4 linked regions of the Homo sapiens genome follow. The protein of the gene in region 2 purifies or fractionates together with the protein of the main gene of each other region. This does not show direct contact. Each region holds a gene or a part of one and is shown on either strand. Other genes may lie near its edges. The genes, in order: SRPK1, HNRNPC, ZC3H18 and HNRNPR.

Region 1 (7,971 bases), on a different chromosome or scaffold from region 2:
AACTTCTAACACAGTACTCTAACCAACTTAATTAGACATTTCAGCTACTTAAAAGGAGGCTGGGATACAAACAAAAGAAAAGAAAGACAGAAAGAAAGACAAAAAGGAAGAAAGAAAAAGAGCAAGGTGCAGTGGCTCATGCCTGTAATCCCAGCACTTTGGGAGGCTGAGGCAGGCGGATTACCTGAGCTCAGGAGTTCGAGACCAGCCTGGGCAACATGGCGAAACTCTCTCTCTACAAAAAATACAAAAATTAACCAGGCGTAGTGGCACACGCCTGTAGTCCCAGCTACTTGGGGGGCTGAGGCAAGAGAATTGCTTGAATCTGGTAGGTGGAGGTTGCAGTGAGCCGAGATCGCACCATTGCACTGCAGCCTGGGCAACAGGCTTTCTTTTTGCCTCAAAAAGAAAAAGAAAAAAAAGGTAGGTAAATTCAAAAACAAACAAACAAAAAAAACTTATTAATTGGAAACAAATCCAAAAATAAAACACCTCTGAAGTTACAAGGAAATGGGGGCAGTTCATTCACGCATATTTTCAGGATTCAAAGTTGTTCAAGATGAAATATTCAGTAAAATGACTGCTAGATTATCTATAATCCATACTTGCAAACAATTAACACAAATAACTCTAAGTTATCCATAGTAGTGAATGGGGTAACAGATACACATCTGACTTTAGAAATAAAGCATATGGTCTAAATAGATAATCGAAAGTAACAGATTTCTGGTGCTTAAAGTATATCATCTATATACATTTACCCCTCAAATTACAGCTTGATTTGGGCTAATCTCAAATTAATTTCTAAGTGGTAAGAGAGATCTGGACAAATAGTCTGAGAGACCAGGATTTCTAAAAAATACAGAGTAATATAATAAAAACTGCAACTTCCTTGTATCAATAGAAAAGAACGTTTTAACACATTCTCATCAATTCCACAAAGAATAACTAAACTAGGCACAGAAAAGTAACATTTCAAGTCCTACTGCACACTAGAACCAAGTTAGCACCTTGCTGTTTCTATTAAACGATCTAGGATTAAAAACTGGTTTTGAATAATCCCATATATGGATAATCCAAAGGTAAACAGACACACACAAACTCTCATTTACAAGACTTCGTCACCAAGCACTTACAAAATACATTTCATAAGACAGAAGAGAAAATGGAGCAAGAGGTGAGGTCACCTACCACTTTAGTTCTATTGAAAGAGAGAAGTCATTATGTGCTCTCCCCAAACAGTAGGTAGCCTCCAAAAACAACACACACCCCTACACCCCCCTAATCTGGTATTGTCATTCAGTGGGGTGACCTAGGAAGGCCTTTGAAATGTGTTGTATCAGCTCAGAGGGAATTAGACCGCATACGATGCCACAAAACATCAAATAAATGTAAAACTATAAAGATAATACATCTAAAATTAAGATGTATTAATAACTAGGCATACAAGCTCTCTCTGAATACAAAGTGTGTAAGAGCTGATTTCCAAGATCCTTTGCAATTAAACGTTAGTACATGATGAAAGTTCTTAAGGCTTAGCCTCACTTGCTGCTAAGCCTGCTACCTGAGTTTCTACTAGGCTGTGACCAACTTTTGAACTTGCCACGATAGCACTAAACTACTGTTATGCATCCTACTGATAAAACTGGACATGTGGCGCTTAATACGCCAAACCAGAATCATCAATGTTTGTTAAAGAACTCTCCCGTTACTATTGTGATGTCCACTCCGGAAGATTATCTGCATCTGGTTGAGGTTTAGACAGAAGAGAAGCAGTTAACAGACACCGACTGTATACACAGCGGTCTGCCGGCACACTGCAAAAAAGCCGATACGCCTTACAGGCTCAGGAAGTTGACTAACCCAGGGAAAAGCCCCATGCCCTCCTCTATGAAAGGGAGTGTGTGGTTGGTAGAACCCAAAGTAAACACGGAAAAATTCATTCAAGAATTTCCTTAAGGCCTACCGTGAAGACGTCGGAGGCAAGTTAAGACGTTGGGGAGCAGGTAAGAGAGACCAGAGTTCAGAAACAGACCGATAATGATCTACCAGCTCCGGTGGGGAGGTCCAAGCTAGGGGAGTTTGTGCCTCCTCTGTGGAGTTGGGGAGGAAAGGTACCGGGCGGGCTCTGGTCCTCCTCCGACAGCCCTTTCCAGCAGGCCCGGGGCTGCTAAGACCCAGGCCTGGCGTTGAGCAACAGCAGCTCTCTTCCACATGGTTGCTGGAGAGCGACCCTCCGAGCTGCCCCGAGGCCATGTGGCTGCAGCCACAGGGTGCCCAAACCCGGTGCACGTTCAAGACGTGAAACCAGAGCAGAGAAGGTGCCGGAGGAAAATCCAAAGAATGGGATGTTGGGGTACAAGACTCACTTCCTTTGGGCTTTGTCCTTCTTGGCCTTGGTCCTTTTCTTTCGGGCCTGGAGCGCAAGCACTGCAGGAGAGAGGGATGGATGAAGGGCGAATGTGGAGGAAAGGAGGCGACCAAGGTGAGGGTGGAGACCCAGCAGGGGCGCCAGGCCCGGCTGCGGGGCCTGCCTCGGGGGCGGCTGCGGGCTCCGGCGAGGCGGCCGGCCGTGGGGCTGGCGGCCCACGGGGCGCAGAGCAGCGCCCGGGCGGGATGCGCCGGAGGGGTCTCAGGCCGGGTCAGGGGGCGGGCGGGTGGGGGTCTGCGTCGCCCGCCAAGGGCCGGGCCCTGGAGTGGCCCCAAGGCGCGAGCCGGCCTGGCGGGGAACAAGGGGCGGCTACGGCCGGCGCCAGAGGACGCCCGGACTGAGGGGCGCGGACCCGCAGCCCAGAGGCAGGGGGTGTGGGGCGGCGCCACCTCAGTGGAGGGGCGCCGCACGTCCGGGAACCGAACCGCGGCAGTTAAGCGAAGCTCCCGGCGCTGACCCGGGCCTCGCCCCGGCGACCATTGCCCCTCGTGGCGGAGGCCGCTCCACCGCTCACCTTTCCGCTCCATGGTGAGACCGGTAATCGCCAGGCGCCTGCGCACTCGAGTGGCGGCGACTCCCGCTCCCGCCGCGGCCCAAAACCGAGCCCGCTCACACTCCGCCCTCAGTCCCGCCCCACCCCCGCCCCACGATGCCGCGCGCTTGCGCGTTGGGCGCGGAGCCTACCACCTGCTCCCGAGGAGGGGGCGGCAAGGAGAGGGAGGGGGCGCAGCGGGGAGGAACGCCGGGGTGAACGTTGAAGGAGTGTTAGAGATCCAAGCTTGGAAACCTGGCAAGGTTAGTTTTGTTCTATTTGTTTAGAAAAGGCGCAGAGAGCGGCAGGGCTCTCTGCATGCTGCTGAGTCAGAGCTTCGGAGGCAACTGGGATCTGCCTCAGTTTCCTGGCCTGTAAAATGGATTAATCAGGCATGTCCCAGTTTCTCCTTCCCTGAGCTATTGTGAGCCCAGTTGAGATACTATTTAAAGAAAATGGAAAAAAATTACATGTGAGAAAGAAAAGGGAGTGGGAGCAACACAAAAAGACTGGAAGGAAAGAACCTGTGACCCTATTATCACTTGAAAAGTAAAAACTTCAAAAGTGAATTTTCTCTTGAAATTTCAAGTTTAAGTGAAAGCTGTAAAGGAAAGAAGGGGAAATGAGAATAAAAACGTTTAATGTTTTCTTATTCTACCACCTTCAATACATGATAAAGCTGTCTTGTTTATAAGTTTTTTTTGTTTTTATTTTCTAAGTGCATTATCTCATTTGATGTTTATGGCAACTTAAAGGCAAAATAGTTATTACTTCCATTACACAAAGACACTAAACTTAAGAGGGCCTGCCTATATGTTCAGAATCTTGGTGTACGACCCAGTTATTTAATCATGAAGCCCTTATTGTATAGCAGGCTCAGCAAAGTTTTTCTTTGGGCCGTACAGTAAATATTTAGGCTTTGTGGACCATAAGATCTCTTTCTCAGCTACTCAACTCTGCCATTGGAGCTCAAAAGCAGTCATAGAAAATATGGGCTGTGTTCCTATAAAGATTTATGTATGGACACTGAAATTTGAATTTCATATAATTTTCACGTCATAAAATGTTCTTCTATTGATTTAAACATGGTCTTTGTTAGGTTTTGAAGGGAAGGTGAGGGTTAAAGAAAGACAGAGAGAGCAGTCTTGCTCTGCTGCCTAGGCCGGAGTACAGTGGCATGATCTCGGCTCACTGCAGCCTGGACATCCAGGGCTCAAGTGATCCTCCCACCTCAGCCTCCCAAGGTGCTGGAATTACAGGTGTGAGCCACTGAGCCAGGCCCTTTTGATCTTTTTTCAACCGTTTCAACGGTTATTCTTATTTCAGATCTTAGTTTACCAACCCATGTTGTAAAGTACCGCAGCTGGACAGAGTGGAAGCTCTGAAGACCTTTGCTCTGAACAAGTAATTGAGAAGGGAAGATGAGAGGGCAATAGTACAGCACAAGTCAAGCATGGGGGCTTTGGCAGAACTTATTGAGCAAAGTAAGTAATTAAGCCCATCCAGAGAAGGCAGTTTTTGAGCTGGGTATTAGGAAATATGTAAGATTTCTATAGGTGGAGAAGGAGATGTCAGGCATTCCTGAATGAGAAAATACATTGAGCAAAAAGGCACAGACGTGGACACCTGTAGGTGGGGGCTAGGATTGGGGCTGGTAACAACTGAAGGGATGAAATGGAAGGTGAGGCTGGAAAGGCAGGTTAGCCAAATTTGAAATTTAGATAATTGATATATGTTGCATGGAACCTGAATGATAGCATGTCTGAGTATATTGCAAAAGAAGACAGTACCTGTTGGCCAAGGAAGGATGCAGCCCAGTCTATTCCCTGCTGTAAAGTTGAAAACAAAAGGAAGGTTAGGACAGACAGGGAAGCCCTAGACTCTGAGGGTTGTGTGAGTTCAGGATAACCGCGTGTGGTTTAGAAAAGACAGGGAGAGAGCTGATAGCTAGGAAAAATCCCAGAATTGGGAAAGTACTGCCCACCCCAAAGTAAACTGTTTGAGTGTAGAGACCCTGCTTAGGTTTTCCTTGATGTAAACTCAGTGCCTACACAGTGTTAGGCACTTAGTAGGTGCTCATATATTTGTCTAATAAAAGAATAAATGGGCCAGGCACAGTGGCTTATGCCTGTAATCCCAGCACTTTGGGAGGCCGAGGCGGGCAGATCACAAGGTTAAGAGATCGAGACCATCCTGGCCAACATGGTGAAACCTCATCTCTACTAAAAATACAAAAGTAGCCGGGCATGGTGGCACATGCCTGTAATCCCAGCTACTTGGGAGGCTGAGGCAGGAGAATCGCTTGAACCCGGGAGGCGGAGGTTGCAGTGAGCCGAGATTGCACCACTGCACTCCAGCCTGGGCAACAAGAGCAAAACTCCGTCTCAAAAGAAAAAAAAAAGAATAAATGATCTGCAGTTTATGAGAAATGTCAGGATGAAAGAGAGAGAAAACACTGAGAGGGACAATATTAGAGCTGTATTAAATCTGAATTGGTTATTGCAGACCCATCAAAAAGGAAATATGTTCAGCTTGGCATGATACAGTCGTACCTATCCTGACTCTGAGTAGGCTATTGCTTCTCTAAGAGCTTACTAACCATCTGTTTAATAACTCGTTTTCAGAATTTTTCCAGAGTCAATGTGAAGTTCACTGGACTGAGTTCCCAGAATTGACCATTTCTCTTTTTTTTCCATCTGTTTTTCTCTATTCCTCCATCATGCTTTGGCTCTCCACTTTTTCTAAGACCTCTATAACTGTTCATGTAAGCACGTTTGTTCATTTCCCCTATTCTACAACCATCCCCTTTTTGTGCATTTTGCTTGAAATGTAACTTTAAAAATAGTTTCTTCTCCCAAGTTTGCAGAGCTTGGCCTATTCTGGACTTTTAACTTTCCAGAATTTTTTTTTTTCTTTGACAGGGTCTCACTCTGTCACCCAGGCAGGAGCGCAGTGGCGAAATCTTTCCTCACTGCAACCCGGGCTCAAGCAATTTTTTCACCTCAGCCTCCCCAGTAGCTGGAACTACTACAGGCACATGCCACCATATCCACTTGATTTTTGTGTTTTTTATAGAGATGGGGTTTTGCCACATTGCCCAGGCTGGTTTGGAACTCCTGGGCTCAAACAATCTGCCCCCCTTAGGCTCCCCAGAAACTATTCTTAAAAGTGTTAGCAAAAAAAAAAAAAAAAAGTGTAGGCCAAGCACAGTGGCTCATGCCTGTAATCCCAACACTTAGGGAGGCAGAGGCAGGAGGATACCTTGAGCCTAAGAGTTAGAGACCTGCCTGGGCAATACAGCAAGACCCTTTTCTGCACAAAAAGGAAAAAAGAAAGACACAAAAAAAGTGGTAGCTATTCATTCTTACATGCATACCCCTTCTCCATCAGCTATTTTTTTCCTGCAAGTCCCTTTAAAAGTAGAGGTATTCGGAAACCATAACCCATCATATTTTTGGCTGCTCATGGTAGTCTCAGAATTTAATTTCTGAAAAGATCCTATCCCTTTTGAGCTAACTTACTTATTAAGACTCCCTGGAATCTTCTCTAATACTTCTTTGACATTTTAGAAATCTGAACGTCTAAAGTTGAGTTCACACGTTTCTTCATACCCAACATTGTCTGCCTTGATTATCACAAATTATTATGCTTTGTCTAAAGTTTTGATCTGACTTAAATCCAAAGCAACACATCCCTTTATGGCCTCCCCTACGTCTTGCGAGATGAAATGGACAACAGGAGAAAGTGAAAATACATGAGATGATTTATTTTGAATGAGTTAAGATTTCCAATAGCTGTCTGCATAATTGGAAAACCCCAAAAAAACTTTCTCTTACCTTTTGGATACATGGTTTTGTGAATTATATTGGGAAAATCTACATATTATAGGCCTGGGTATCAGGAAACACATGGCACATTTAAAGGCTAATTGAAGAGAATTTAATGAAGGAATAAAGGTGTTAAGGAAAACAAACAAGGGATAGTTAGACATCCAGGGACTAGCAACAGCTGGAGTTTTTACCATCTCTAGGCCTGAAGGGAGAAGAGGATGGAGGTGTTATCAGAACCCAGGGAGAGGTTTATTATTAACAATTTGCCAGGGGCCGGACGCGGTGGCTCACGCCTGTAATCCCAGCACTTTGGGAGGCCAAGACGGGTGGATCACCTGAGGTCAGGAGTTCAAGACCAGCCTGTTCAACATGATGAAACCCCGTCTCTACTAAAAATACAAAAAAAAAAAAAAAAAAATTAGCTGGGCATGGTGGCGGGCGCTTGTAATCCCAGCTACTTGGGAGACTGAGGCAGGAGAATCGCTTGAACCTGGGAGGCAGAGGTTGCAGTAAGCCGAGATTGCGCCACTGCACTCCAGCCTGGGCAACAAAAACAAAACTCTGTCTCAAAAAAAAAAAAAAAAAAGTTTTCCAGGGGCTGCCATAACAAAGTACCACAAACTGGGTAGCTTAAACAATAGAAAATTCTTGTCTCACAGGCTTAGAAGTCTGAAATCAAGGTATTGGCAGGGTTGGTTCCTTCTGAGGTCTGTGAGAGAGAATGTGTTTCAGGCCCTTCTCCTTGCCTTCTGGGTAACCATCATCTCCCTCGCCACATGCTCTTCCCTGTGCATCTGTCTCTCATTGTGTTGGGATTTCCCCTTTTTATACGGACACCAGTCATACTGCATTGGGCTTCATCCTAAAAACCTCATTTTAATTTGATTACCTCTGGAAAGACCCTGTTTCCAAGTAAGGACACATTCTGAGGTACTGGAGATTAGGACTCCAACATATCTTTTGTTGGGTGGGGGGCAAAATTCAACCCATAACAGAGCTGTAGTAAGAGAGGCCCGCCTGGCAGCAGCTGTGCCCTTTAATGAGCCCTGCAGGGAGAGGGCAGGGAAATAAAGACCCACATCTTCTCAAACGAGTGCCTCACCATTGACAAAACCCAGCTGGAAGTTAAATGGCAAGGAAGCCTGGGTGATGCAGTCCATACATGCCAGCCTCCCAGG
Region 2 (7,023 bases):
TGACTCCAAGAAAAATATATCTAGTGCATTCTAGAGGTTTTGTGGAGGACGCTGTAAAACAAAGTTTGAAGTAAACAATAATAAAATACAAAAATAAAAAACCAGGGTTTTTTTTTTCTCCAAATTCCTGGTTTAATAAGGACTTGTTTATTTTGAGGAAAAAAGGTCCCAAACATCAGGCTGTTCACAAAAATAACCCACAGTATCAACTTTAGAAAACAAATCTTAAGACTATAACACTAATTATTTTTCTAGAGGATGCATTTGACATGCCAACTCTCATTCACAAAAATACATTGTTACATTTGTGTTGAACTGCCCCACACAGCACACTAATGTGAGGGTGTAACACACATACTTCTAACTCAAAGCTGCTTTCAAGAGCTACTCAACTAAATGAGATTGCCTTTGCAGTTAGGGAAGCAACTACTGAACTTATGTATGAATGAAAAGAACTGTACTCCCTGCATAACAAGAGATTATTTTGGAGACAGTTGATAAAAACCATACATCCTTTTTATTGTTAAGTCATAAAGAGGTATCAAAATTAAAAGCAAAAATTACAGGGTAAGACTTAACAAAACTACTAGGAGCGTCAAAGGAAGTGAAAATGGGACTAGGCGCGGGGCAATATGAATTAATGAACATGGGAAGGACAAGGATGGGGAGAACAGTGAGCATGTGCTGAAGATACTAGGGGAGAGGATCTGGTGAAAAATTTGATCTTAGACAAGCGCCTAGGTAAAGAAATAATGGGATAAGATTTCTAAACCCCACTATGTGCTTAAGAGTCATCCTCGCCATTGGCGCTGTCTCTGTCATCCTCTCCTTCCTCAGCCTCTTTTTCATCATCCTTGATCAACTCCAGCTGTGAGAAACAGACACAAACAGGATGGAGTTAGAGGCACTCCATGTGTCCCTGAGCCCCCCTCCACCACCTTTTTCTTTCCTTTCCCGTGGTTTTCACCTGGTCATCCCCCCGATCTTCATTATCATCATCATCCAGTAGGTCCCCCTCCTCAGCAGAGTCATCTGCACCCCCCTCAGACTCCATCTTCACATTAGTCTCATCTTTCTTCACGGAGCTGCTGCTCTGCTCCTCTTCTGACTTATCATTCTTCATCTCTACTGCGGATGAGAAGGACAAGTCTGTCTAGGGGCAGTAATGTCCACAGGACGTAGACAATCCCCACTAAGGATCACAGAACTGCAGCACAAATCTAAATCCTCCCACACAAATACCCTTCCCAATTCACACTCCCCAAGTTTCATATTACATTGCTTTATATTCCACTATTCCAACATGTACTTTCAAGTGCCTTATGTAACTAACCCAACTGTATACCAAGGGCAAGCAGAAAACCCATTTACCTGCTTGTTTGCTCTGTTCCTTTTCAATTTTTTCCAGGTTTTCCAGGAGAGAATCCACTTTTTGTTTTATCTGGGTCAGCTCCTTCTTAATGGCCTGAAGGTCATCTCCTTTCACTTTAATATAAACAAAATACTAGATTAAAATCAAATGTACCGAAGATATGAGTTAGCAAATACACTGCCACCAGACTACATCAGGAGCTCACAGGAGATACCCAGGGAGAAACAGAGCCAGTACAGATTTCTCGGTAATAAAGGCCCTTGGTTCTATTATAAAGCACGTTCTGTAATGGTTTTTATTGTTTTTAATGTCTTTTAGATCAGGGCTGTCGCTATGTTGACCAGGCCTGAGGACAGTGACTATTCACACGTATGATCACAGTGAACTTAAACTCCTGGCCTCATGAAATCCTCCCACTACAGCCTAGATCCCCAGGGTCTTAGCCTCCCCCTAAGCATCTGGGGCTACAGGCACGCACCACTGCATCAGACCTTCTGTAATGTTTTACTGCCTTCCATATTTCCAGTTACAGGAGGAGTTCAATATAGAAAAGTTAAAAAAAATCAACATACTGAACACTGTCTGAATTTTAGTTTTTAAATAACACAAAAAAATCTCAGGAACTTAACGCACACCTCAACTACATAAAGTCAAATGACATTTTTTAAATTACCTAGCTGTTGCAGTCTAGAATTGGCCACTCAATCACAATCTTGTCTCCTCTGTTATTTTGGATTTTTTTTTTTTTCTTGAGATGGAGTTTTGCTCGTCACCCAGGCTGGAGTGCAATGGCATGATCTCGGCTCACTGCAACCTCCGCCTCCTGGGTAAAAGCGATTCTCCTGCCTCAGCCTCCCAATTAGCTGGGATTACATGCACGCACCACCATCCCCGGCAAATTTTTTGTATTTTCGGTAGAGATGGGGTTCCTCCATGTTGGACAGGCTGGTCTTGAACTCCTGACCTCAGCTGATCCACCCGCTGGGCCTCCCAAAGTGCTGGGATTACAGGCATGAGCCACCACACACCCAGCCTCTTCCATTATTTTGAATACACAAAGTCATGTGGCACAAAAATATTGTAACTGCATTAGCTTCCCTATCTCAAAACACAAGAGATACCAAAATCACAAAATGAAATAATACATACACTTTCCAGACTTGGAAGATCCCCGCTGTCCACTCTTAGAATTGAAGCCACTTTTGCCCCTTCGTGAAGTGTTTCCTGATACACGCTGACGTTTCGAGGGCACTACAGCCCGAGCAATAGGAGGAGGAGGAGGTACACGTGCTGGGTAACTGTACATCCTATTGGATAAGAGGAAAATGGAATTCATTCAAACCTAACATTAACTCAGCACAATTCAACAGACCTTATGATAAATAGTAAGTGAATATTGTCTCTAGTCGTTTCCTTTTATTAAATTTCATTAAGAAGGCCAGCAAAAACCTCCACAGTGGGGTTTAGAAATCTTATCCCATTATTTCTTTACCTAGGCACATAAAATAGTTGTAATACTGTAGCAACTTTTCCTCAGGAAAATAAAACATATATCAAATTATATGGTTGGCTGGCCTTTGGCACTGGATATAAATGATTCCTCTGTACTAGTGTCAGTATTAACAGGGCATTTATTATAATGAATAGCCTTTGGATCTTATTATTTTCAAATATACATTACAATAAACAATTCACATACGGTCAAATACTCTTTAAAATGTTCCAATTAAAAGGGTATATAAACAGTGGTATATGGCATTAGCGAAATCTCTGATTCTTTTCACCCACAGAAGCACACGAATTATTACAACTAGTGATATAAGGTTGAACCATATAAAATTTCAGATCTATAAAATCAGGGCAATTTCATGTAACTGAGGGAATCATAGCAAAATGTGTTGGCTGGGTATAAATACTACTGATAAAAAATACCTCATATAAAAACAGGTAGTATCATTTCTAACTAAATTTACGCTTAATTCCAACAGGGCAGAGACCACTGTCTATCTTGTTCACTACTCACCTATGTCTAAATTCACTGGCCAGTACACACTTAGCACTCAATAAACACTGGTTGCTCAACTAATTGCTGTTTCTATTAGAAATCTTAATTTCAAATGTCTTAAACTTAGTATCCCAGTGATTGATAAAGATACACCAAAGCAGTGGCTTGGTACACTTACATTTGTAAAGAGAAAATTCAAAACAGAACAAAATACTTCTTACATGGACATCAGTTCTAAACTTTCTACATTCCACATTGTCATTTCCATATAAGAACCTATGGCAACGTATGAAAAGGTCTTCAATTCTGCAAGCTTTTTAAAAATGCAACTAACTTAATGCAAAGGCCCAGGTACTCTATAAAAATACACCTACCAACTGTTCTAACTCCAAATATTTCTTAAAAAACAAATGTGATAGTCAAGAACTTTAAAAATATTATTAATCACCTTTGTCATGATTCTCCCTCTTATATATATACAATAGTGGCAAGTTATTCTGAGTTGTAATATCTCCAATCTTCCTGTAGTGAAAACATTTACAAGATCTCATTGCTAATTCTCTCCTCTGTTAACTTAAAAGTGTTTCCACACTATTTCAACAAAGCAATGTTTAATCTTGTCCCAGGAGTGGCTATGGACAGGAACATTTTCCTAAATTAAAAGAGCAAGGAAAGCTGAGATGGAAAGACAGGTTGAGCCCAGGAGGTGAGAGAACCATGACTGCACCACTGCACTCATGCGGAACAGAGCAACACTGTCTCAAAAAAAAAGAAAACAGAAAAAAGTTTGCATTTCCCCTAAGTATGGTTAATCTCTTAGTTTAATCCATTCATGGGAATTAATGCAAAGAAAAAGATACTGAGTAACTTTTTATTATCACTACTTTCCCATTTTGACATAAAGCTTTTGGTCTTTTTGACCAAAATCTTGCAAAGTATAATGATACAGAAACTATAAAATATCAGTGTTCAGAAACTCATATCCTTTGTGAGAGATGGTAACACTTGCACAAACACAAATTGCTTAACGACAATTTCTGGAGGTGAATCAAAATAAGTTATCCATATCCATGAGCATTAAACTGAGCTTAAGCCTCAGTCCAATGGAAATAAATATCTAATCTACCTCCTAAGCCACAAACCTTCACCGGCACCCGTATCTAAACCAATGAGCTAGCTAGCTAGTTCTGTACTATCACTGGAATTTCTTTTTAAAACCTACTATTTCGTCTGACCACAGCCAAAATAAAGCAAGTAATACAGTTTTGTTTTGAATCTATGTAACAGTCTCATGAACACAATTAGGAGTCAAATTCTCTACTTTTCTGAAGAAAAATATTTCAAAATATTTCAGCCAGTTAAGGCTTTTAGTTACACAGAATGCTGCTCAGGCAGAAATGGACTCTCATTCACATCTGAGGAAGTAGTCCTTGCCTCGAAAAATGTTGAGGACGGTAAGTGTGAAAATAGAAAAAAAACATACATAGTGTGACAACCTTTAAGTTAAAAGGGATATATATTAAGAAGCTCAGTATGACTACTTCAAGCACCAGCTAAAAATTAAGCGGAAATTCTCACTATGAGAAAGCTATACAATAGATGAGGCAACAATAGCTGATTACTTACTGATTAAGGCTAGGCTGTTTAAAATCTTTTACCAGGGGAACAAGGACTAAACCCTAGGAGAATTGTAACTGCACCCATAATCAAACTTGATGGTGTTGGTATAAAATCTAGTCAGATTAAGAAATTAAAACACTCTAGAGACATTAATCACCTGAACAGATTAAGACAAAATACACCAGCCAGGTGTGGAGGCTCATGCCTGTAATCCCAACATTTTGGGAGGCGGAGGCAGGTGGATCATGAGGTTACGAGTTGAGACCAGCCTGACCAACATGGGGAAACCCCGTGTATACTAAAAATACAAAAATTAGCCGGGCATGGTGGCACACGCCTGTAATTCCAGCTACTCAGGAGGGCTGAGGCAGAAGAATTGCTTGAATCTGGAAGGCAGAGGTTGCAGTGAGCTGAGATCATTCCACTGTACTCCAGCCTCAGTGACAGAGCAAGACTCCGTCTTAAAAAAAAAAAAAAGAAAGGAAGAAAGAAAGAAAAGGAAAAGAAAAAGAAAAAAAAAACAACAAAACACACCAGCTGGATGCAGTGGCACACCTGTAATCCCAGCTACGCAGGAGGCTGAGGCACGAGAGTTGCTTGAACCCAGGAAGGAAGTGGGGGTTGCAGACAGCCATTGCACTCCAGCCTGGGCGACAGAGTAAAAACTTTTGTCTCCTCCACCACCAAAAAAAAAAAAAAAAAAAAAGACAAAGAATGTCTACCCCAATTCCAAAGTAAAAGCATTACAAGACATGTACTAAGAAGAGGTTTTCAAAGGGAAGCTTCTTAAATGGAAATTCTGACCATAAGACATTAGCTGCAAACAGTGACATTTCCTGGGTCTCAAAAAACCTAGTAATACATGTCAACACTACACCAGAGTAGACGTTAATCTATTAATAATAAAGCTATCATTTGGTACATGGACCATTTAATGGACCACAGCTGATTCTCATCTTAAAAATGTGAACAGATTGAAATAATCTGTTTTGCCGGACAGGGTGGCTCACACCTGTAATCCCAGCACTTTGGGAGGCTAAGGCGAGCGGCTCATTTGAGGCCAGGACATGGAGACGGGCCTGACCAACATGGTGAAACCCAGTGTCTACTAAAAATAGAAAAAATTATCCAGGTGTGGTGGCACATTCCTATAATCTCAGGTACTCCGGGGGCTGAGGGACAACAATCGCTTGAACCTAACAGGCGGAGTTCATAATGAGTCAAGATCCCACCACTGCACTCCGGCATGGATCACAGAGTAAGACTCCGTCACAAAACAAAAATTAAGAGAACCAAAGGAGCAGTTTTTTCCATTCTATCTCCAGTAAATACTAGTTAAATGAACTACCAACTGATGACAGACATCTGCCTCAAACTTAACTATGTAGATAAAAAAACTGATATAAAAAAGTTTAACACAGGTTTACATTAAAATTTAAATAACAATATGTCAAATTGTGACCGAAAACAATAAATCCGTTAAACTAGCTAGCTAGCTAGTTCCGTACTATCACTGGAATTTCCTTTTAAAACCTACTATTTCATCTGACCATAGCCAAAATGAAGCAAGTAATAGTTCTGTTTTGAATCTATGTTAACAGTCCCATGAACACAATTAGGAGTCAAATTCTCTACTTTTCTGAAGAAAAATATTTCAAAATATTTCAGCCGGTGGGGCTTTTAGTTACAAAGAATGCTGCTCAGGCAGAAATGGACTCTCATTCACATCTGAGGAAGTAGTCCTTGCCTCAAAATGTTCGTAACATAGTTGGAATTCTTGATTTTGTGCTTAAAAATAAATCAACCAGCAAAATTTTTGTAGCTTGTGTTTTATTTCTAAACTGAAATCAATGATTTCTAATGTTATTTGCAAGTACTTCACCACAAACATGCTGTCTTAGTCTAGCATCAGTTTACCCGGATACTATCAACTGCAAGCACCACTCATTTAAAATATAAAACGACTAAATGGTAAACCAGTATGCTCATTTGCTCACCACTGGAGCTATACAAGGTATTCACCACA
Region 3 (7,023 bases), on a different chromosome or scaffold from region 2:
AGCGTGGACCTTCCACTCACTGCCACTTCACATTACAAAGGTTCTCACCTTCAATGTGCCCCGGGCAAGTAGGATTCCTCTACTGACTGGCTGCCCACTATGTGCCAGGCCCCAGGGAGATAGGGGAACCAGCCAGGTAGCCCCCAGTCTTAGGAAACATGTTCTTGGGAATAGGGGAAGCAGCAGGCAGAGACATATACATATACACACACACACACACACACACACACACACACACACACACACACACACACACAGATGAACCTGTGTCACGACAGAGAGGCAGAGGCAACAGAGAAACAGCCTACGCAAATGCTGAGGTTGACACATAAAGGATGGAGGAGCCTGAAACGCTGCTGGGCGTGGGAACAAGAGGAGACCACGGGGGCTCCTGGGGCAAGCAACCCAGGGGCCTGAAGTCAAATGTGCTCTTGTAGAGGCTGAACCCACCATTCACAGCACTGCCCACCTTGGTTAAAGGCCTGCTGCCCCCACAGCAGGAGCGGGCTCTGCTCCGCCCTGCCCAGTCACACTCAGCATGTGGCACAGCAAGGTCCACCTGTGCTGGTGTCCAGGAGCACAGACCTATGGGGGATGTGGGGCGCTGGAGGCAGTCTGTGCGGTGGAAGAAACCTGCCTCCCCGTTTGCCAAGGGAGCTGTGCTGGGGTTTCCACAGCAGCACTCCGTTTTCAACTGTGGGTCCCCTCACAAGACGGTGCCAGGCAGGGCAGGCAAGGTCTAGGTAGGCAAAAATGGCAAATGGGGTTTTTCTTCCATGTGCTGTGTCTAGGGGAAACCAGCATGTCCAGGCCCTTGGCAGCCAGGGCCATTCTCCAGAGCAGCTGGACCCATCTACCGCACCGCCCGCGCCCATGGTGCGGCACTGAGAACTCACAGTATGCTCCACAGACATGGCCTTTCAGGACCACTATGGGGACCCTTGATCCGTCTGATGAATCTCCCCCAAGACTTGAGGGTCTGCAGCCAGTCCTCTTAAGAGGAACTAGAGCACGCCAGAGCCCTGGGTGCAGGACCTGCTGCACTCCCAGTGGTGGTGCAGACAGGGCTGTTACCCCCAGGACACAAAAACTCAGTCTCATGGGCATCCTCAACCCAACCAGCTCCCCCAGCTGATGAACCTGAATCTCACCGTCTCTCCTTTCCCTCTGCCAGCCCTGGGGTAGGTCTCCTCTTGCAAAAAGCACTAGCTGAGGAGACCACTTCCTACACTTCGCTGCGGAAAGATGAAACATCTAAAATTCTCAGCTTGCAGGTGCACACACGTCCCGTAAAGTCACATGAGCAATACTTCAAACCCTATAAATTACTGAGCAGTGCCACAGAGAGCAGCGATGGCCGGAAAGTCATATCCAAACGTGCATTGAGAGCACGCACGCCAGCATGCTACTGGAGAAGCATGGCACCCGCCGGGCGTGGTGCCTCACGCCTGTGATCCCAGCACTGTGGGAGGCTGAGACGGCCGGATCACCTGAGGTCAGGAGTTTGAAACAAGCCTGGCCAACAGGGCGACACCTCATCTCTACGAAAAATACAAAAATTAGCCAGTGGTGGCGGGCGCCTGTAATCCCAGCTACTCAGGAGGCTGAGGCAGGATAATTGCCTGAACCTGGGGGTAGAGGCTGTAGTGAGCTGAGATGGCGCCACTGCACTCCAGCCTGGGTTACAGGGTAGACTCTCTCTCTCAAAAAAAAGGAGCATGGCATTCAAGGCAAACCGGCGGTTACACATCTAACTGGCAGCCTTTACCTGCCTCAACCCAGAGCATGACATCAGAGAGATACTCTCGGCAGACACTCTTCACCGCAATGACTCCCCATAAGCACAATCCCCTTCCCCAGGATCTTTCAAAAAAAAAACAACAAAAACCCAGTTCAGTTCAACTGCTCTGTCCCTTGCTCACCTCCTTTGAGTTCAATAGCTCCGGCAAGTATCACTCAGGAGGACTTTGGGGTGTTTCTCCCGAAACACTCATAGTTTTTCCAACGGCATCAACTGCTAAGAAAACCCCACCTACCCATACCTAGGATCATAGATAGTACTACCTTCCCCTCAACCTGAAGGCCACATTAATTTAATGTACAAAAAAGTGTGCTGGCTTTGTCAGAAGTTGAGGTGCCCACCACAGTCTTTTCAGGGATATGTCCAAAGAGGCCTGGCCCAGCTGGTGCCCTCTCCAGAGGTCAGGCTCTAGGACCAGCATAAAAATGCCTAAAACATCCAAAACCAGATGGAAAATTTCCTCATTCTTTTCAGTCCAAAAACCTGACAAGAGTGGAAACCCACGTGGTTTCTGGTTGAGTGTTAACTTGAGTATCACTTGAAGACGGCAAAGACAAGGACAGACATTAACCCTTCATTCCTAGAACCTAAAAACACTGGGCGCTGGACCTTTCACTACAACCCAAACAATCCCACCAGCTGGCCGGCCGAGGGCCACGGAAACCCTGCTGGCAGCTTCTGGAGCTGCCTCTGCTCATTCTCGATTTCTGGCTCTTTCTCTCCAATCACTATGGGACTGAACCCAAAACAAGCCTCTCATTCTCCTGCACCATCCCTAGTAACAAATCACTAAGTCAGTCCCACACAGAGTCCCTCCTTTCCAGCACCAGTCTATGTCAGGCTGCTGGGCAGGATGCCCCGCGACGCTCTGCTCCATCATACTCACGTCTATTTCCCCATCATCGATTTCTCCATCATCGTCCTCTTTCTTTTTCTCCTTGGCAGCCTCCAGGGATTCCTTTTCTCCCACACTCTGAACACCAGCCTTCCCCTCCTCCCTGGGAGTGCCTTCGCCTTTCTCCTCATCATCCTCAGCCCCCGCTTTCTCAGCCTCGTCCTCCTGGACGGCGGGAGCTGGCTCCTCAGGAACCTCCTCATCGTAGTCTAGCTCATGCTCATCCAGCTCCCTGGTGACTGAGGAGGCCTCATCCCTAAGGTCGCTTGTCCGGTCTTCCTCCCCTTCGTCCCCCTCCTCCTCGCAGGGGGAGCTGGTCGGGCCCCGGCTCAGCTCATTCACCTCTGAGTCCTGGTCTTGGGATTTAGGCTCACTTGCCCGGTCCTCCTCGTCGGAGTGATTATCTTCCTCCTCCTGGCTCGGCCCCCTGGCTGCACTTTCCTCATCCTCCAGATCAGAAGCCCTCACCCCCGCCCCGTCCAAATCCTGATCGGACCCGCTGTCCCTCAGAATGTCATCGTCCGAGAGTCCCTGTGGCTGCTCTTCATCCTCTGGAGAGTGAGGATCCCGTTCAGGGCTCTCGGCCACATCCATCGGTACCCACGGTTCTGCAAAAGAGAGAATACAGATTGACAGCCTTTAGCAAAATGGAAAACAAACCTTGTCCCTACTTTCCTGGCCTGAAGCAGCAGGACTTCCATCCTGCTTGGTCCCACACGGCCCTGCCCCAAATCCCACACTCCACTCTGCAGAGAAAGACAGGCCATAACTCCACTCCACAAGGCTAGACTGCTCAGCTAAGCTGGGTGTTAAGTGCCTCCCGTTTTTGGCAATCTGGCAAAATGAGATGTGGCAGAAGGAGACGCAGCCTGGCCTAGCCCTTCCCCGCTCAAGGGCAGCCCACACGAGTTAACAGAAAGTGAGTAACGATACGGATCGCAAAGGACAGCTGTGTGAATTCTTAGAGGAGTATTTACTTTTGAAATTAAAGATAAACTGTATCATGGAACGAGGAAGCAAAACTGCAGGCCCAGATCTCACCATTTTTCTGGAGTCATCCTGAAGCAGGAACCTGGGCCAGCCTTCGGCAGTGTCCAAGTCTGGAGCCTTTTCTGTTACTGAACACACTTCTCGAAGGCCAGCCTCTGAGGGCCTCCGAGAATCCCTTGGCTGCCCTTTAGCAATGCAGGCTCAGAGCCCTGCCTGCGTGTTCACTGGCCCCTCCAGCAGGTGTCGAGAGGGCTGTGTTCACCCGCTCAGCAACTCACACTCCTAAGTTGAGAACCCCTCTTCCCATACAGGTAGCTGCTGTCGAAAAGAACTCTGGCAGGAAACTTGACACACTTAAGTACCGCGCGTATGTAAAAGACGAGGCTGGCCAGGTACGGTGGCTCGCATCTACAATCTCAGCACTTTGGGAGGTTGCAACGGGAGGATCATTTGAGCCCAGCAGTTCGAGACCAGCCTGGGCAACATGGTGAGACCCTGTCTCTGTAAAAAAAAAATACTAAAATTCAGGCCAGGCGCGGTGGCTCACACCTGTAATCCCAGCACTTTGGGAGGCCCGAGGCAGGTGGATCATGAGGTCAGGAGATCGAGACCATCCTGGCTAACACGGTGAAACCCCGTCTCTATGAAAAATACAAAAACTTAGCTGCACGTGGTGGCAGGCGCCTGTAGTCCCAGCTATTCAGGAGGCTGAGGCAGGAGAAAGGCGTGAACCCAGGAGGTAGAGCTTGCAGTGAGCTGAGATCGCGCCACCGCACTCCAGCCTGGGCGACAGAGTGAGACTCCGTCTCAAAACAAAAACAAAAACAAACAAACAAACAAAAACTAAGTCACAGAGTGTGGTGGTGCGTGCCTATATTCCCAGCTACTTGGGAGTCTGACGCAGGAGGATCGCTTAAGCCCAGGAGGTGGAGGCTGCAGTAAGCCAAGACTGCATCAATGTGCTTCAGCCTGGGCAACAGAGTGAGACCAATCTCCAAAAAAAACTCAAAAAACAAAAAAAGACGGGGTCACTTCAGACTTCATTCCTATTTTTACTAATCCAGATTAAATTATAAAGTTAATATTTTCGAGTTTCCCTCCTCAAAAACTCATAGAAAGTACACTGCTACCCATGCTTTAAAAGTGGACGGTGTTAAGACGGGTAGGAAGGTGTAGAACGGCAACACCTGCCTGGCAAACACTTGCCACACCACCACTACCAGGGCAGCTAGTCACCACCAAGTGAGTGTGGAGCAGCAGGGACAGTGCCAGGTCAGCGGTCACTTGACTGTTCAGTCTGTGAGGCTGTTAAAATAACGTATGTCACGGTCACACTGCTCGGCATCTCGGCAAGGTCTGGAAACAGATTATTCATCTCAAGATAACTACGGACGCAGCAAGTCATACACATACACATTTATATGTCTTGTATCTCAAATAACCATACACACTAAAGATAAAAATATTCATCTTTTAAATTTATACTTTTAATACAACCTGTTTAAAGATGCACAGTATCAAGAATTGGTATCAACCTACAGTTAAACATTTTTTTTTTTTGCTGTTAATGGAAATCATTAAGATTAAGTACACATTAGAGGCCGGGCACGGTGGCTCACGCCTGTAATCCCAGCACTTTGGGAGGCCGAGGCGGGTGGATCACGAGGTCAGGAGATCGAGACCATCCTGGCTAACACGGTGAAACCCCGTCTCTACTAAATATACAAAAAATTAGTCGGGTGTGGTGGCGGGTGCCTGTGTTCCCAGCTACTCGGGAGGCTGAGGCAGGAGAATGGCGTGAACCCAGGGGGCGGGGCTTGGAGTGAGCCGAGATCGCGCCATTGCACTCCAGCCTGGGCGACAGAGCGAGACTCCGTCTCAAAAAAAAAAAAAAAAGATACATTAGAACAAATTGGTCAGGTGCGGTGGTTCATGCCTGTAATCCCAGCACTTTGGGAGGCTGAGGTGGGCGGATCACTTGAGTCCAGGAGTTCTAGACCAGCTTGGGCAACATAGCAAAACCCCATCTCTACCAAAAAAAAAAAAAAAAAAAAAAAAAATTAGCTGGGTGTGGTAGGGCACCTGTCGTCCCAGCTACTTGGGAGGCTGAGATAGGAGGATCACCTGATCCTAGGAGGTTGAGGCTGCAGTTCAGCCTGGGTGACAGAGTGAGACCCTGACTCAAACAAAAAACAAAAAAGCCAAAAAAACCCAAATCTGGCCAGGCGTGGTGGCTCGCGTCTGTAATCCTAGCACTTTGGGAGGCCAAGGCAGGTGGATCATCCGAAGTCAGGAGTTCAAGACCAGCCTGGCCAACATGGTGAAACCCGGTCTCTACTAAAATACAAAAATTAGCTGGGCATGATAGCAGGTGCCTGTTATCCAAGCTACTTGGGAGGCTGAGACGAGAGAATCGCTTGAACCTGGGAGACAGTGGTTGCAGTGAGCCGAGATCACACCACTGCACTCCAGCCTAGGTGGTGGCTAAGCGAGACTCCGTCTCAAAAGAAAATTCAAATCATTTAAAATTCATCACTTTATAAAAACTAAATGGGCCAAGGGTGGTGGCTCACGCCTGTAATCCCAGCACTTTGGAAGACTGACGCGGGTGGATCACCTGAGGTCAGGAGTTCAGGACAAGCCCGGTCAAAATGGTGAAACCTTGTCTCTACTAAATATACAAAACATTAGCTGGGCATGGTGGTGGGCATCTGTAATCCCAGCTGCTCGGGAGGCTGAGGCAGGAGAATTGCTTGAACTCGGGGGGGCGGAGGTTGCAGTGAGCCAAGATTGTGTCATTGCTCTCCAGCATGGGCAAAAAGAGCAAAACTCCGTCTCAAAAAAAAAAACCTAAATGGTTAGCAATAACATAGATTTACAAACCAACCAATCCATTCCAAGTCACTTAAAAGCAGACAGTTCTGAAAATGATTCACTTTTTGGTTTTCTAAGTACACTATTCGGTTACTATCCAGAGACAGGACTACTGGGAGGAATTATTAAAAAGTCAGTCCTAAGCCAGGAGTGGTGGCATGTACCTGGAATCCCGGCTACTTGTGTGGTTGAGGTGGGAGAATCACTCGAGCCCAAGAGTTCGAGTCCAGCCTAGATAACATGGTAAGACCCTCGTCTTTTTATTAAAGGTAGTCCTAAACTGGTATACACTGCTGAAAATGGGAAAGTCAAGGAGCTGATCCCCAAACAGTATCACAGGGGCGCTTGATGCACAGAGCATTTCTGCAGCCCAAGGCAACAAAAGCAAGGATGAAAAGCACCAAGGCTGCTAAGGCCTCTACGCACTGACTGTTCAAGACTGGGAGTCTGCGTGGGGTTGTGG
Region 4 (7,023 bases), on a different chromosome or scaffold from region 2:
TGTAATACTTCCAAGGCATCATGCTATCGAATCTTACAAAACAATACAGAGATTAAAAATAACTTGCCTAAGATCACAAACTCAGTAATAACCTGGCTTTGAAATATGGAGTCTTATCTGTTACATACTATTACCACTTTACAGAGATTAAATAGAAAGAGTTCAGCAAAAGCTGACAACCAATATTGTTTCAGTTTTTAAAGTTACTTTGTGTTTGGCAAGTTTCAAAAACAAAATTCAAATATCAAGAACCAAAATTTCAAAATTCCTACCTTAACAGCTGCTCCTCTGTCTTCAAAATGAACAAATGCATAATCTTTCAACTTCTTTACTCTTTCGAGTTTTCCAAATTCAGAAAATGACTTTTCCAATATTTCTTCTGTCACCGTAGTAGCCAAGTTTCTCACAAACAAAACTTTTACCTAGTAAGCAACAAATAAACAAAACCGTCATTGGCTACTTAATTTTACCTGAAAAGTGTTTCTTCCTGTCTTCATAGCATAGCTTTTCTCCTCTAAAACATTAAGTGCTAAAAGTGTTGTTACAGGTAGTAAGAGAAATTGCTAGGAAAATGACACTGATATCAGTCACCAATTTACAAAAATTATTGGTTCCTGCCTTCTCCTATGTTGTCATTAAAGCACCTAACACTGAGTAGAACCTTCAAGGAACCAACACATAATTATTATTACCAAGTTAATCAACAAAAAGTCCCTTTCAAAACAAGTTTTTCTGTTTCTTTCCTCTAAAACTGAGTAACTTTCAAAAGTTCATATGAAAAAATAAATAAGCAAGAATAACCAGGAAAAAAAAGAGTGAAATTTAGAGGCTGGCCCTACCAAATATAAACAAACTATAATGCTTAAATCATTAAATCAGGTAGTGTTAAATTAGAAAAAAAGGAGAAAAGCTGGTCCATGCCTTACACTATACACAAGGATAAACTCCAAATAGATTGAAAATTTAAATAATAAAAGGGTGGAGGGAGGACTGTGAAATTTTAGAACAAGAATGATTCCTTTATATAACACTGGAGTGGGGATGACCTTATGACTTAAAATCTAGGAGCCATAAGAATGTTATACTCAACTACTAAAAATAAATGACTTCTATATGGCAAAAAAATACTATAAGCAAAGACAATAAATATGGATGAAAAATTTGCAACATGTATCACAAACAGCTAATCTCTCTTTTATATCAGAGCACCAGAAAATAACAAAAAGCTCAACAACTGAATAGAAAAATAGGCAAAATTCCTGAATACATGGTTCATACACAGAAACACATATGGCTCTTAAAATATATTTAAAGTTCAAACCATTCATAGTAAGAGAAGCAAATCATTAATCATTAATGGCACTGAGACATTTGTTATCAGGCTGGCAAAATTCAAAAGTTTGATTATACACTATTTTGTCAAGAATGAGGAAAATAATTCTCTTGTATTTTGCTGGTAGGAATGTAAAATAGTGTATCTCCTACAGAAAGGAATATGGCAGTATCTTAACAATTACAGATATATCTACCCTTTGGCCCACAATTCTACCCCTAAGAATCTATCCTACAGATATATCTCCACTTGTATCAACTAACATAAGCTTATTCCTTCCAGCACTGTAAGAGCAAAAGATTAGAAACAATATCCAGCTGGTTAAATACACTATAGTACCTCCACAGAATAGACTACTATGTAGTCATAAAAAATGAAGAAGAGGGCTGGGCGCGGTGGCTCACGCCTGTAATCCCAGCACTTTGGGAGGCCGAGGTGGGCAGATCACCTGAGGTTGGGAGTTCAAGACCAGCCTGGCCAGCATGGTGAAACCCTGTCTCTACTAAAAATACAAAAATTAGCCGGGCGTGGTAGGAGGCACCTATAACCCCAGCTACTCGGGAAGCTGAGGCAGGAGAATCACTTGAACCCGGGAGGCAGAGGCTGCAGTGAGCCAAGATTACACCACTGCACTCCAGCCTGGGTGACAGAGCAAGGCTCCGTCTCAAAAAAAAAAAAAAAAAAAAAAAAAACAAAAACCCAAAAAATGAAGAGGAGCTCTATGAGTTGTAGGATAGGACAACTTACAGTCAATGTGATAAGCAAGTACTGTGCCATAGTTTAGTTGGCAGTGTTTTTTAACTATTTAGTAGTACATATAGTAATGATGTATTTCCTCAGAGCTGATGAAACAGGATGGTGAATAAACAAAAGGTAGATCAGTGGATATGGTAGGCTACCAACATTACTACCACTCATCTAAGAATTAAGGAAGTATATCCATATTTGCCGAAGGAAATACTAAAAGGAAACCAGCAACTATTAAAACTGGATGCCTTATAGGAGACAAAGGGGATTTGGTAGACACAGGGATAGGGGTAGAAAGGAAATTTCTTTGTCTATACTTTTCTATATAACTTTTGAACTAAGAAAACATAGTACCTATCCAAATAAAAAACTAACATATTGAACAAATTGTTGCTTCAGATAAAGGGCTATCTAATAAGAAGATACTAATTTAAGGAGGAAAAAAACTAACATTTTCCACAAACGCTCCATCCCCTTTATTATTCTCAATTTGTCATACTAAGGTCCAGCCTCTATGTTACACAGACTCCCACTGGTTTAGTTGCTTTTTAAAAAAAATTCAACATGGACTTTTCTATGATGAAACGATAACATACTATGTGAAAATTACTTACTGAAATTGTGTTTAAAATGTTCAACAGGAAAAAGGGTCCCTTTAAGAGACATATATTTAGGCTTTTAGGTTATGGTACATTGTAAAACTGACCCAACTTGGCAAAAAAAATCTTCAGTGAATTGTAAATTGATAGTGTGAATAACAGAAGCTTTACTCAAATGGATAAACTTTTCTTTTCAATTAGGAAACAATAAAGGAGCTGGATGGGGTTGCAAGCACCCGGGAGGCTGAAGCAGGAGGGACGCTTAAGCCCAGGAGTTCAAGGCTGCAGTGTGCTATGACTGCACATGTGGGCAGCTACTGCACTCCAGCCTGGGCAACATGAGACCCCATCTTTTAAAAAAAAGAAACAATAAAGGGCTCCATAATATTTAATCCTAAGTTTATAGAGACCTCCTTTTCATTCTGAAACCTGTTTTAGATCTAGGAAAAAGGAGTTACCAGAATGAAATCTTGAAGTTTTCTAACCCTAAAAAAAGATTAGGATGAACTTCCATCTGAGCAGTTACTAAAGGTTATGTGAGAAGTGGCTGGTAAGCAAATTACAAGCTATACTTTTGGTTTTCATGGGATTTTATTCCTCTTTTATAATATTTTATTCCTCTATTATAATACATCTATAATACTATTTTAAAATATTTTTACAGAAAAAGTAATACAGGCTATACTTAGTTACTACAGGTAGATTCAAAGTTGTGGTGGATCTTAGAGATTGATCCAGGCTCAATAAAATAGATGACATTCATGTTCAGTAGTTTACCCAAAGTCATAGTTGTATTAGGAGAAGAAACAATAGGAATTAAAATCAAGCTAGTAAAAAATCAAAATAAAAACTCAGAGCTATTTAAATTCTCTATCCCTTTCCTAGACACCCATCTACTCAAGGAATATGAGATAAAAGATACTGAGTAGCACTTCTGAGAGCCTCTCTGGTTCATTCTGAATAGAACTTATCTGATTAACCCAAAGATGTCACTGCCAACCCAGACTTTATACAAGTATAAACCAGAGTTCTCCTCCAAACTACTTAGAACGAGGGTTTGCCTCCTCAAATTCTGGAATAAAAACCTTGACTTCTGACTTATCAAGAAGAATCCAACCATTAACTCATGGCCATTCAGAGTTGCTGCCTCCCTGTGAAGGGAAGAGACAACTAAAATGCTCAAGAGCTCATTGCAAGCAGCAGAAATGCAACTCTGAGGCCGGGCGCAGTGGCTCACACCTGTAACCCCAGCACTTTGGGAGGCCGAGGCGGGCGGTTCACAGGGTCAGGAGATGGACACCACCCTGGCTAACATGGTGAAACCCCGTCTCTACTAAAAATACAAAAAATTAGCCAGCTGTGGTGGCGGGCACCTGTAGTCCCAGCTACTTGGGAGGCTGAGGCAGGAGAATGGCGTGAACCCAGGAGGCAGAGCTTGCCGTGAGTGGAGATCGCGCCACTGCACTCCAGCCTGGGACAAAGCAAGACTCCATCTCAAAAAAAAAGAAATGCAACTCTGATGTGTCCCAGGAGTCGCCCAAAGGAAAACTTAAGAACCAGTACTCAAGGCACCACTATTAAGATCCTGGCAACGCAAGTACAGGAATCAGGAGGGAATTGAGGGCCCTTTACAGGACTTGCCATGCATATTTTGCCACTAACAAATAAGAGCAAACATGACAATCTTTTGCCTTTCTTCATGGGGACAATACACTAAGGGAATCTGATCATTTAAAAACAAGAGGCGGGGCACGGTGGCTCATGCCTTAATCCCAGCACTTTGGGAGGCCAAGGCGGGTAGATCATGAGCTTAGGAGTTCGAGACCAGCCTGCAATATGGTGAAATGCTGTCTCTACTAAAAATACAAAATTTAGCCGGGCATGGTGGCAGGCGCCTGTAGTCCCAGCTACTTGGGAGGCTGAGGAAGGAGAATCGCTTGAACCTGGGAGGTGGAGGTTGCAGTGAGCCGAGATCGTACCACTGCACTCCAGCCTGGGCAACACAGCAAGACTCTGTCTCAAAAAATAATAATAATAAATAAAATATTTTTAAAAATAAAAACTACAAAAAAAGCTTAAAAAAAGAAAAATTAGCTATAAATCTAAATAAAACATAATTCATGGCCAAGTAATAAAGTCATAATATAGTCAATGAAGATTATAACTTATAATCTCCAAAACATTACTTCTCTCTTTACTCAGGACTTTTAAAAAAAAAAAAAACCTCTATCCCTCACAGTGCCTAGCACTAAACAAACACCCAGTGTGTATGGGACTACTTAATTGAAGGAATTTCATTTCAGTTCCTTTTGCACATTTAATCTGCAGGAAAAGGGATTGTTAATGGAAATTCCTGGATACCAAGACAGGCTGTTAACTTTAGTGTTAAAGCCGCTCCTTGCCAAACAGTTGAAGTCTAAAGCTACAATTTCTATTTATCATAAAACTCAAAATATTTGAGCTTTATTCTGAGTACAAAATTTAAATGATGACCCTATGCCCATTCCAAGCAACTGTATTTACCTTAGCCATGACTTCTGGATCTGGTTCTTCCACAGGGTCAGCCCATTCAACTGTAACTACATTTCCCCACACTTTTACTTTTCCACTCATCAGCCGGCGTCTGGCTTGTGCTGCTGACTTGTGATCCTCATATTCAAGGAAGCAGAACCCCCGATTCTTCTTTTTGTCATCGGGTTGATGATAGAGAATAACGTCCACCAAACCCTCTGTTAAACCAACAGCCAGATATATAAGCCAAAAGCATCCACCACACATCTAGCGATTAGGCAGACCTAAATCCACTTGACGATGAGCAAAATATAAGTGAAGCAGCCTCAACATGAGTCACTAATTTTGTAGACAATTAGATCAACATAATTAGATATGGGGTTTGGGACAGTATTTGATGTTCCTTTTTAATTTTAGGGGTTCTGAAGGTACAGCCATATACAACAAATCTACTATATTCTGACATTTAACATGCTACAATGTTTTAGAGCGTTTGATATAACATGACTTTATTAAAGCACTAACAAGGATCTTAAAAACAAAATTAGTAATATAAACCCAAGAGAACTAACTTTTGACAACTAATCATGGCCAAAAATCTTCCTTGAAGCTAACTTAAAAGTTACTATTTTTACCAAGAATGGAAGTGATCACTAAATATTAGTGTTCCTCTGGTCTTAGTCCTTTGCCCTTATCTCTCCGTATGTGTTCTTTCTAAATAATGTCAGCTAGCCCTACTTTTAAATGTTACCTATACCCTTATAAATACTTAGATTTTTTTCCTACCCCAGACTTCTCTAAGCTCTAGATGTGCCTACGTTCTTACCCGATGTATCCTCTTTGATGTCTTAGACATTGCAAATTTAACTTTTCCAAAACTGAACCACCATGGCCAAAATCTGCCTTCCCTAGACTTCCTATCTAATAAACAGTGCCATCCACCTGGTTCTGAAGCCAGAAATTGGTTAGCCATTCTTGATTTCTTCCTTCATCTCTCCTATCCAATTCCAAACTCATTTACTTCTTTCTATCTCCACTGCTATTACCCTAGTCTAATCCTGTATCTGTACTAGTATGACAGCTTCAACTAATTTATCAGCTTCCACTCACACCCCTTCTCTCCAAGCCCCTATCCACAGAGCGCTAGGAATAATATCCCATAAACAAGAAATAGGTGTTATTTCCTGCTTAAAACCTTTAAATACCTTCTCATTATATATACAATAAAAACCCAACTCCTTACATGGCCTACAGAAGCCCTGCCTACTTCATTTCATACAACTCTACTCCTAATTCTACCTTTTAATAATACTGGCCTCCTCAGTTACTGTAATATACTGACTTCTTTCTTGCCTTGGAACCTTGGCACGTGTTGCTGTCTTGGAATGCACTTCCTTTTGCTCTTTGTATGCTACAACCTCTTCATCCTTCAGGTGCTGGTTGACATGTCATCTTATCAGAAAAGTCTTCCAAAACCATGGAAACAGGGATAGTAGCTATTCTCTAGCTAAATATCCTGTATTTCCTGCTTCAGTGTCTTATCACAATGTCTAAATATTCCTTTAATTTTTATTTTTTATATTCTTGGTCTTATCTCCTTTCTCAGGATATAGGATCTATGAAAGCAGAGAATATGTCTCTTAGCCATCAGTGTATCCCAGGCACATAGCACAATGCCAGCACTTAACAGGAACTTTAATAAACACCTGCTGAAAGAATGAATAAATGATCATGAAGCCAGAAGGAGCTATAGATAATAAAGTGATGAGGTCAAAGAACTGTGCCAGCAGTTGACAACACAATACTTGACAACACAATATAGCGGGTGGTAGC

What was found.
Region 1: the proteins of HNRNPC (region 2) and SRPK1 fractionate together in Homo sapiens (co-fractionation; 3 studies listed by BioGRID and IntAct, with this or other methods). This does not show direct contact.
Region 3: the proteins of HNRNPC (region 2) and ZC3H18 purify together in Homo sapiens (affinity purification with mass spectrometry; 2 studies listed by BioGRID and IntAct, with this or other methods). This does not show direct contact.
Region 4: the proteins of HNRNPC (region 2) and HNRNPR purify together in Homo sapiens (affinity purification with mass spectrometry; 3 studies listed by BioGRID and IntAct, with this or other methods). This does not show direct contact.

Annotation. Positions count from the first base shown.
Region 1 is NC_000006.12:35,918,099-35,926,069, forward strand, and holds the start of SRPK1 (SRSF protein kinase 1), read right to left. Parts: upstream 3,001-7,971; 5' UTR 2,959-3,000; coding exon 2,946-2,958; intron 2,431-2,945; coding exon 2,370-2,430; intron 1-2,369. UniProt on the Homo sapiens protein: Serine/arginine-rich protein-specific kinase which specifically phosphorylates its substrates at serine residues located in regions rich in arginine/serine dipeptides, known as RS domains and is involved in the phosphorylation of SR splicing factors and the regulation of splicing.
Region 2 is NC_000014.9:21,210,439-21,217,461, forward strand, and holds part of HNRNPC (heterogeneous nuclear ribonucleoproteins C1/C2), read right to left. Parts: intron 2,680-7,023; coding exon 2,522-2,679; intron 1,486-2,521; coding exon 1,372-1,485; intron 1,129-1,371; coding exon 968-1,128; intron 869-967; coding exon 785-868; 3' UTR 1-784. UniProt on the Homo sapiens protein: Binds pre-mRNA and nucleates the assembly of 40S hnRNP particles. Interacts with poly-U tracts in the 3'-UTR or 5'-UTR of mRNA and modulates the stability and the level of translation of bound mRNA molecules. Single HNRNPC tetramers bind 230-240 nucleotides.
Region 3 is NC_000016.10:88,573,391-88,580,413, reverse strand, and holds part of ZC3H18 (zinc finger CCCH domain-containing protein 18), read right to left. Parts: intron 3,305-7,023; 5' UTR 3,291-3,304; coding exon 2,688-3,290; intron 1-2,687.
Region 4 is NC_000001.11:23,313,281-23,320,303, forward strand, and holds part of HNRNPR (heterogeneous nuclear ribonucleoprotein R), read right to left. Parts: intron 5,418-7,023; coding exon of another isoform or gene 5,409-5,417; coding exon 5,203-5,408; intron 423-5,202; coding exon 273-422; intron 1-272. UniProt on the Homo sapiens protein: Component of ribonucleosomes, which are complexes of at least 20 other different heterogeneous nuclear ribonucleoproteins (hnRNP). hnRNP play an important role in processing of precursor mRNA in the nucleus.